3 linked regions of the Homo sapiens genome follow. The protein of the gene in region 3 interacts with the protein of the main gene of each other region in a pairwise test. Each region holds a gene or a part of one and is shown on either strand. Other genes may lie near its edges.

What was found.
Region 1: the proteins of SETX (region 3) and EXOSC9 interact in a two-hybrid assay, tested with the Homo sapiens proteins (one study listed by BioGRID and IntAct).
Region 2: the proteins of SETX (region 3) and TOPORS interact in a two-hybrid assay, tested with the Homo sapiens proteins (one study listed by BioGRID and IntAct).

The regions. Positions count from the first base shown.
Region 1 is NC_000004.12:121,811,308-121,814,564, reverse strand, and holds part of EXOSC9 (exosome complex component RRP45), read right to left. Parts: intron 2,983-3,257; coding exon 2,894-2,982; intron 1,332-2,893; coding exon 1,185-1,331; intron 700-1,184; coding exon 518-699; intron 1-517. UniProt on the Homo sapiens protein: Non-catalytic component of the RNA exosome complex which has 3'->5' exoribonuclease activity and participates in a multitude of cellular RNA processing and degradation events.
Region 2 is NC_000009.12:32,542,468-32,546,125, reverse strand, and holds part of TOPORS (E3 ubiquitin-protein ligase Topors), read left to right. Parts: intron 1-1,799; coding exon 1,800-3,658. UniProt on the Homo sapiens protein: Functions as an E3 ubiquitin-protein ligase and as an E3 SUMO1-protein ligase. Probable tumor suppressor involved in cell growth, cell proliferation and apoptosis that regulates p53/TP53 stability through ubiquitin-dependent degradation.
Region 3 is NC_000009.12:132,344,836-132,348,493, forward strand, and holds part of SETX (probable helicase senataxin), read right to left. Parts: intron 1,637-3,658; coding exon 1,426-1,636; intron 1-1,425. UniProt on the Homo sapiens protein: Probable RNA/DNA helicase involved in diverse aspects of RNA metabolism and genomic integrity.

The sequences.
Region 1 (3,257 bases), on a different chromosome or scaffold from region 3:
TAGGCAGTATTATATGTTATGATATGGGATGGGCTTTTTGTTTCAGTCTAGAAACTACAAAAAAAAAGACAGCAGGGAGGAATAAGATCTTCAAGAAACTCATTCCCTTAAAACCCACCCACATACATACACACACACAAAATTTTTTTAATTAAAAATATCACTATCATTTATGCCAGTGTTCCACTACTCTACAAAGATATGCATATTCTTTTAGAAAGTAGCATTAGTATTGCAGCTAGCCACAATAATTTAGTTGAAATTTAAATCACAATATTTAGCCCCTCTAAAAATGCAATACTTACATCCCTATATATAACTACATATCTATATTCTCTCTATATAGTATCCTGTATGTTATTTATCCACTATACATCTCTATATAGCTAATATGCTATATATTACTATATACAGTGATAATATAAATATACACACATTTTATGCATTATATATATAACTATACGGTAATACTATATGTATGTAATATATAGTAAGTGTGCCATAAAGTGTCACCTACCTTGGCTTCCAATATCAGAGACTTCTACTCCAGTGTCCATTTTTATACCATCAAGAATGATAGCTTGATCACCACCGCCTTCATCATCTTCCTTCTCAGAGTCTTCAAGATCACCCCAGGAGTTTTCTACTCCCTCTCCAATTTGGGCAGTTCCAGGAGTCCATAGCACAGGTGTAGAAACACTTAACAAGTTAAGAAAACTGAGTAACAAAAATATTGCTATTTGATGAACTGTTGAAGATGAGAATGAAAGTTTTCTTCTTGTAAGATTGATTCAAGTGTGCCCCAAGTTCCTAGGGGAAAAAAAACTTAATATAGCTACACTATGGATGGCTGAACAATGAAGAAGAAAAAAAACTCAGGCAAGATTTTATGGATGCAATTAATAAGAAATGTGAAGAGACAGATTCTCTCAACATTTTAGTTATAGTACTAAATTAAATTGGTCCTTAAAATCTGTTTTTTCCAGGATAACTGAATAGAAGCTGAATGTTATACCATCAACAGAATATGACTCACATCTCTATCTTGTATTTTAAGTGTTTTCTCTAACAAAGTACAGTGTTTACAAAAACTAATTTCAGTATACACATCCTTCATATAGCCTAATATTATAATGCCAAGTGTTATGAATCTTGTTACTGCAAAAACCACCAAATAAAGATACACTTCTGAAGGAGGTTCTGCTTCAGCAATGATTTCTTCTGCTTTTTCTTCTACATCCGAGGTATCAATAGGGGCCTTTTCCATTTTAAATGCTGTGATCCTTTGATTTGCTATAGACTCTGCAAAACCAAACTTTCCACCTTCTTTCCTGTATGTGGGGGTTTTTTTGGTGGGAAGGAAGGGGGAGGAAGGTAACAGATTGGATAGAAGACAGGAAGGGAAAAAAACTATTATTTTATCCTTTGGTGGATGAAAAATATTGGAAGAGAGTTAGTTTATCTAACTTAACCTCACCAATTTATTATGCCTAACAAGAGTAAATAGTTAGCATAATCATTTATTAAACCACGTGCCAGACCATGTGCTAGGTGCTTAAAATATACTATTCTCTAACCCTCAAATCAGCCCTACCAGGTAGTGTTAATATCCCATATTATAGAAGAGGACACTGAAATGCTGGGTTATGTATCTTGCTTAAGATAGCACAGTAAGAGGTAGAGATGGAAATCAACCTGTTTCCTTCCATTAATTTGAGTTACTAGATTATTTTTATCCTAAGAAAATGTTAACTGCTAAAGAAAAATCTTATGTCTCCAGGCACGGTGGCTCACACCTGTAATCCTAATATTTTGGGAGGCCCAGGCGGGTGGATCACCTGAGGTCAGGAGTTTGAGACCGGCCTGGCCAAAACGGCGAAACCCCATCCCTACTAAAAATATAAAAATTAGCCGGGCATGGTGGTATGCATCTGTAATCTCAGCTATTTGGGAGGCTGAGGCAGGAGAATCACTTGAAGCCATGAGGCGGAGGCTGCAGTGAGCTGAGATTGCACAAATGCACTATAGCCTAGGTGACAGAGTGAGAAGTGAGACTTCATCTCAAAAAACAAACAAAAATCTTATATGATTTTTCAATATAGGTTACATTTAAATTGCAGAAAATATAACAAGTCCAATTTTCTAAAAACACATTAAATAGTATACTCAATTCAGATTAACAAATAAGGAAAGATCAAGTGTGAAATTTATATGGTTGCCCTCGTTCAAGGAAGATCCTTAAGAAAAAAAATATATTAAAAGACCATTTAGGGCCATTTCCTGTTCCCTGTGTTGTATCTTGGAGTCTGGATTAATGAAGACCTCTTGCTCTTAGGAGGGTCTTTCCTCTTTATTGTTTTAGAATTCTGGACTTGACCCAGACTTAAATTCCCATCTGTGATGCATTTTGCAATAAGTGGGTTTGATGCCAGCACTTTGAAAGATATCCCTCATAAAACAAAAGGACAAGAATCACCAGCTCCCACACAAAGTAAAAAACGTGAACCTAATTTTAGCAGTGTTAATAAGGAGCAACTATCCACAAGTCACTGCATCAATAATGCTTGTGTTATAACATCCTCTCCTCCCTAAGGCACAGGAGCAAGTGACACATACTTGTCTGGGAACCAGTTTCATTAATACTTTTATTGTATCCGTCCAAAGATGAGTAGCAATATCTGTTACCAGTTTCACTACCTTTCGGAGTTTTGGGTAACATAACTATACCATGGTATTTACACTTTTTAATGAGTCAATTTTAATTGAAATTGCCATTCTAACTTTGTATGTGAAATCAAGTTCATGCATAATAAAGCTTGCTTATACTAAAAAAAATAATAAAAATTTAAAAAATGAAAATAAAAGACCACTTAGTTCTGGAAAAGTTACTTACCTTACTTTTTGGTCATTCTCCAAAGCTTTCAATATTAGCTCTGTAATTTCTGCTACTTTCACACCAGCGATTTTACTGCATCTCAGAACCTATTTATAAAAGTGAATTCTGTTGTTTAAAGACAATAAACCAAATAGTTTTCTCTAATGAAACTAAAACCATGAAATTTTTCTACCTTTATAATTTAAGCCTGACTTTTCCAAACATGAATACAATGTAAACACAGATTAAGGCAAGATGTGAAAGTTGTTTTAAGATATGTGAAGGACTGTCACATCAAGGGAACAGACATAAAAACTTTCTTATACAACAGTATAAAAGATACCACAGAAGAGGCCACAGACACATATATGCTCCAGGATGC
Region 2 (3,658 bases), about 100 Mb from region 3:
GTAAATAGAAGACTAGACATACCTGGACCCCTGAAGAAACGCTTATTTAGCATTAATTGATTCTCTATTAAGTTATGGTTCTGAGAAAGCCAAGATGCCCTAAAGTGAGCAGGTTTAATATGAAAGCTATGGTGGAATACTTGTATTTCAGTCATGAGTTTTTGTTGTGGGTTTTGTTTATTGGTTTTTCTTATAGTTTGTTAAGGCCAATGAGTCTATTTAGAAAATTACAATTCTGTTATTTGATTAACTTGACCCCAGTTGACTAGTGATGGAACCTCCTGTGATAAAGGAGGTGGAGGAAGATGAATATTAGGCCCTGGGAAACCAAGGGCCTAGTAGTTTTTTGTTGTTGTTTGTTTATTTGTTTTGAGACAGAGTTTCACTCTTGTCACCCACTGCAATGGTGCAGTCTCAGCTCACTGCAACCTCTGCCTCCTGGGTTCAAGCGATTCTCCTGTCTCAGCCTCCCAAGTAGCTGGGATTACAGGTGCCTGCCACCATGCCCGGCTAATTTTTGTATTCTTAGTAGAGACAAGGTTTCACAACGTTGGCCAGGCTGGTCTTGAACTCCTGACCTCAGGTGATCTGCCTGCCTTGGCCTCCCAAAGTGCTGGATTACAGGCATGAGCCACCGCGCCTGACTCCCCAATAGTCAATATACTCAAAATGATTAGTATAAAATGCAGCTTTGGAGTTTATGAGATAAAGTCAAAACGCATACTAGATTTCAAGCTCTAGCAAAGTTTTGAGCCAATGTAAACTGATAAAACAAACTAATCTTTAATATTCTAGTCATCCTTATGGGAAAGGATAATAGGGAAGGGGACCAAAAACATGATTTCAAGATATTCTGTGGCCTGACTTTTGGATTAAAGAAAAAAGCTAAAGGAAGGCTTATTAGGAATGCTGAATGGAATGAGTGATTAACTGAATATAATAGTGTAGTAATAATAACAGCTGACATTTACTCAGCACCTACTGTGAGCCAGGCACTGCCTCTTGGCTGCTTTTTCATTTATTATTTAATCTTCACTAAAAGTTTCCTCTCCCTTTTTAAAATTAGCTTTCTAAGGTTGAAAAAAGAATCTTTCACTAAAAATCATAGGATTGGTTTAAACAGGTGAACTTTCTGGTATGTAAGTTATGTCACCAAAGTTGTTTTAGAAAAGTACATACAAAATATCACAGATAAATCAGTAGTCTGTATTGTTAGTGGCATATGTATATGAAAGGTATAAAGCCATGCATAGAAATAACATCAACTGAGGAGTGTGGTGTTTTTGTTTTTTGTTTTCTAGAGAGTGATAGGAGGGGAAGATAAGGGGCATAACATAAGTGGTGGATACATGGGTATTTGGTACTTTTTTTTTTTATATGTCAGATATTTCTCAAATTATTTTTAAAAAGAATAATAGAATGTTACATAATATTTGAGAGCTTTACTATGTAGCAGGTGCCTTTTCTAAGGGCTTTTTACATCTTCACAAACCCTGTAAGGCAGATTCTGTTATCACTGACCTGCAGATGAAATTAAAGCACAGAGATACTAACTGGCACATAGTCACGCTGGTAGTGTGGAACCAGGATTCAGTCTTAGGAAATCTGACTTCAGAGCTTATGCTTTAAGCACTATATTACTATGCTACAGTGCCCCTTTATAAAATAAAACAAAAGTAATGGGTCACTTAAGTATTTTCACCAAAATAAGTTTCAAGGTCTTTATTTGCATTTTTGTTGAGACTATTTAGTCATTCCTCTATTATCAGGTTACTGATATATTTCTTTCCCTTTTACAGATAATGGCATCAGCTGCTAAGGAATTTAAAATGGACAACTTTTCACCTAAAGCTGGCACTAGCAAATTGCAACAGACAGTACCAGCTGATGCATCTCCTGATTCTAAGTGTCCTATATGCTTGGATAGATTTGATAATGTGTCTTACTTAGATCGCTGCTTACATAAGTTCTGTTTTCGCTGTGTACAGGAGTGGTCAAAAAACAAAGCTGAATGCCCACTATGTAAACAGCCCTTTGATTCTATTTTCCATTCTGTGAGGGCAGAAGATGACTTCAAGGAGTATGTCCTAAGGCCTTCGTATAATGGTTCTTTTGTCACCCCTGATCGACGATTTCGCTACCGTACAACTCTGACAAGGGAACGAAATGCTTCTGTGTATTCACCTAGTGGTCCTGTGAACAGAAGAACAACAACTCCACCGGATAGTGGAGTACTGTTTGAAGGGTTAGGCATTTCAACAAGACCTAGAGATGTTGAAATTCCTCAGTTTATGAGACAGATTGCAGTAAGGAGGCCAACTACGGCAGATGAAAGATCTTTGCGGAAAATTCAAGAACAAGATATTATTAATTTTAGACGAACTCTTTATCGTGCTGGTGCTCGAGTTAGAAATATTGAAGATGGTGGCCGCTACAGGGATATTTCAGCTGAATTTTTCCGTAGAAATCCAGCTTGCCTTCACAGATTAGTCCCCTGGTTAAAACGTGAACTTACAGTTCTTTTTGGAGCTCATGGATCTTTAGTGAATATTGTCCAGCATATTATCATGAGTAATGTTACTCGCTATGACTTGGAGAGTCAGGCATTTGTGTCTGATTTAAGACCATTTTTACTTAATCGAACTGAGCATTTTATACATGAATTTATCAGTTTTGCCCGATCTCCTTTTAACATGGCAGCCTTTGACCAGCATGCCAATTATGATTGCCCTGCTCCTTCATACGAAGAAGGCAGCCATTCTGATTCTTCAGTCATAACAATATCTCCAGATGAGGCTGAGACCCAAGAGCTGGATATTAATGTAGCCACTGTTAGTCAGGCACCATGGGATGATGAAACTCCAGGACCATCTTACTCAAGCTCAGAGCAGGTACACGTTACTATGTCTTCTCTTTTAAATACTTCTGACAGTTCAGATGAAGAACTTGTCACAGGAGGAGCCACGTCTCAGATACAAGGAGTACAAACCAATGACGACCTAAATAATGACAGTGATGATTCTTCAGATAATTGTGTCATTGTTGGGTTTGTTAAACCACTAGCTGAGAGGACCCCAGAACTTGTTGAACTGTCCTCTGATTCTGAGGACTTAGGTTCTTATGAGAAAATGGAGACAGTGAAGACACAAGAACAGGAGCAATCTTACAGTTCTGGTGATAGCGATGTTAGTAGATGCTCATCTCCACACTCTGTCCTTGGAAAGGATGAACAAATAAATAAAGGTCATTGTGATTCTAGTACAAGAATCAAATCAAAGAAGGAAGAGAAACGATCTACATCATTGTCATCTCCCAGAAACCTGAACTCATCTGTAAGAGGAGACAGAGTATATTCTCCATATAACCATAGACACAGAAAGAGGGGAAGATCAAGAAGTTCAGATTCACGTTCTCAGAGTAGAAGTGGGCATGATCAGAAGAATCATAGAAAGCATCATGGGAAGAAAAGAATGAAAAGTAAACGATCCAGAAGCAGGGAAAGTAGCAGACCTAGAGGGAGAAGAGACAAAAAGAGATCAAGAACTAGAGATAGCAGTTGGTCCAGAAGAAGCCAAACTCTGTCTCTAAGTAGTGAAAGCACAAGCAGATCAAGGTCTCGTAGCAGTGATCATGGTAAAAGAAGATCACGGAGCAGAAA
Region 3 (3,658 bases):
CTGCACTCCAGCCTGGGCGACAGTGAGACTCTTTAAAAAAAAAAAAAAAAAAAGGTATTGTTAGATTTGATAGGTTAGGGAAATGCCTTTACTTTCAAGAGATTCGTATTATGAAATGCAAATATCAACAACCAAAATCTAGACAGCTATAATAAGCCATGCCATAGTGGTTAATGAAAATTACTACAGAATAGCATTTCCCAACCAGGGGTGATTTTATACCTCACCCCCCAAAAGGGGTATTCAGCAATGTCTGGAGACATTTTTGGTTGTCACAAAGGAGATAGGGAGTGCTAGCGGCATTTAGTAGACAAAGGCCAGGGATGCTGCTACACATCCTACAATGGACGGCACAGCCCACAGCAAAGGATTATCCAAAATGTCACCAATGCAAGGCTGAGAAACCCTGCCACAGACATACTACAAGAATGAAAATTATTATTATTACTATTTTTTAAGACAGAGTCTCTGTCTGTCACCCAGGCTGGAGTGCAGTGGCACAATCTTGGTTCACTGCAACCTCCGCCTTCCAGGTTCAAGTGATTCTCCTGCCTCAGCCTCCTGAGTAGCTGGGATTACAGGTGCCTGCCACCACACCTGGCTAATTTTTGTATTTTTAGTAGAGACAGGGTTTCACTATGTTAGCAAGGCTGGTCTTGAACTCCTGACCTCAGGTGCTCTGCCTGCCTCAGCCTCCCAAAATGATGGGATTACAGGCGTGAGCCACCATGCCCGGCGAGAATGAAAATTATTAATAATTGAACAAAGAGGTGAACAGATACGTAATAAAGCAAATATAGCAAAATGTTAACAACCGTATAAACTATGTGATGGGTATATCATGTTCACTGTATAATTTACTTTTCTATGTTAAAAAATTTTCACAATAAAATGTTGAGAGCCAGGCATAGTGGCTCGTGCCTATAATCCCAGCAATTTGGGAAGCTGAGGTGGGAGGACTGCTTGAGCCCAGGAGTTCAACACCAGCCTGGGCAACAGTGAAACTTCATCTCTACAATAAACACAACATAAAATTAGCTGGACGCAATGGCACACGCCTGTACTCCCAGCTACCCACAAGGCTCAGGCAGGAGTATTACTTGAGCCCAGGAGGTAGAGGCTGCAGTGGGCCATGACTGCGCCACTGCACTTCGGCCTAGGAGACACAGCAAGACCCTGTCTCTAAAAAAAAATAAAAACAATCTTCAGTTACCCTCTGAACAAGATAAGTTTGAACTGTGCCCCAAAAATAGGTATTTTGTGTTTGAACTCAAAAAATAAAAAACGTTGGAAAAAAAATGAAGTCCTAATTATATATCCTAATTATATGTTTAGCAAACAAATTTGCAATATAGATAAGCCTAAATTCTTATGGTACTAAAATAATAAAACTGATATAACTTGAGGAACCATCAAGATACTCACTAACACGTTCATGTAGAAGCAAGTAAGGATATTTCAGTATTTCAAGAAGAGGAACTCGAAGCTTATTTTCAAAGTCTTGCCCAGTGATGTCAAACAGTGGCATCTCTCCATTATTGTCTACTATATATAACTCATCATCATCTCCAATTTCTGCCTTCATGGATTTTTCAAAGTGATTTATGAGACGTAAGGTTTCTAATTCCCATAAAACCTAGAGGAAAATAAAATGGGCAGTGTGCGTTATGTCTTATCATCAACAAAATACACTGAATGTGACGACCTAGAAAGCCTTTTCCTAAGTACAAAAATTCTGAAATGTAAAGTATTAGAGCTTGTATTTTAGATTTAAAGAAAACTATTCAAATGTGGCCACTTTTATGAAAAGTGAGTACACAGAGTATGAGATATTGGCTAGGCACAGTGGCTCACAGCTGTAATCCCAGCATTTTGGAAGGCTGAGGTAGGAGGACTGTTTCAGGTCAGGAGTTCGAGACCAGCCTGGGTAGCAAAGCAAGACCCTGTCACTAAAAAAAAAAAAAATAGAAAAATTAGCTAGGTGTGGTGCATGCCTACAGTCCTAGCTTCTCTGGAGGCTGAAGCAAAAGGATCACTTGAGCCCAAGAATCTGAAGCTACAGTGAGCTATGATTGTGCCACTGTACTCCAGTCTGGATGACATAGGGAAACCCTGCCTCTAAGAGAAAAAGAAAACAGGCCAGGCACACTGGCTCCTGCCTGTAATCCCAGCACTTTGAGAGGCTGAGGTGGGCGGATCACCTGAGGTCGGGAGTTCAGAACCACCCTGACCAACACGGAGGAACCTCGTCTCTACTAAAAATACAAAAATAGCCAGGCGTAGTGGTGCATGCCTGTAATCCCATATTCGGGAGGCTGAAGCAGGAGAATCGCTTGAACCCAGGAGGCGGAGGTTGCAGTGAGCCAAGATCACGCCACTGCACTCCAGCCTGGGCAACAACAGGGAAACTCCATCTCAAACAAAAAACCAAACAAACGAAAAAAAACAAGAAAACAAAAAATAGTATGCTATGTTTAAACACTTTTTATTTTTTTTTGAGACAGAATCTCGCTGTCGCCCAGGCTGGAGTGCAATGGCGTGGTCTCAGCTCACCGCAACCTTGGCCTCCCAGGTTCAAGCGATTCTCCTGCCTCAGCCTCCTGAGTAGCTGGGATTACAGGCGCCCACCACCACGCCTGGCTAATTTTTGTATTTTAGTAGAGACGGACTTTCACCATGATGGCCAGGCTGGTCTCAAACTGCTGACCTCGTAATCCACCTGCCTCAGCATCCCAAAGTGCTGGGATTACAGGTGTAAGCTACAGCACTCAGCCTTAAACACTTCTCTTGTAGAAGTTTTCTATAAATATCTCAACATCCCTATCAACTACATTCAAAAAAAAAAAAAAGAGAAGCTGGAGCCTCTCTGTCAAATGCAAAACCGAGGCCCTTCTATGTCTTCCCTTCTATGTTCTAGCCATAGCTAACTACCTTAGTGCAGCTTGTGGTATAAAAGACGCTGGATAGCTTCATAATTAGAAAACTTTATAAAGTGCACGTTTCTCAACACAAGTCCATTACTAATCATCCTCTCCTCTATATACTGTATATATCTCTATGGTCTACGTTCTGTTTTTCATCAATAAATAAACCAAATATTCAAAGCCAAATATTTAGAATTATATCTTTCACTTTTGTTATCATGACTGGAAAATATGCTTGCCCTTAAAGGTTTATGCCATTTGCCCATTAAAAAAAGAAAAAAAGAAGTTATTATTACCAATTAAAAAAAAAAAACCCTGGCCAGGCGCAGTGGCTCACAGCTGTAATCCCAGCACTTTGGGAGGCCGAGGTGGGCAGATCACCTGACGTCAGGAGTTTTGAGACCAGCTGGGCCAACATGGTAAAACCCCATCTCTACTAAAAATAAAAAATTAGCCGGGTGTGGTGGCACGTGCCTTTAGTCCCAGCTACTTGGGAGGCTGAGGCAGGAGAATCGCTTGAACCCACCTGGGAGGCAGAGGTTGAAGTGAGCCAAGATCACGCCACTGCACTCCAGCCTGGACAAGAGAGTGAGACTCTGTCTCAAAAAAAAAACAAAACAAAAAAAAAACAACCCACTAACAAAAACCCAGGCCATTCAGATACTCAGATACATGCATGTATTATAGCACTGACCAAAAAATTATGAAACAAATCCCCTCCCAATGACTTTATT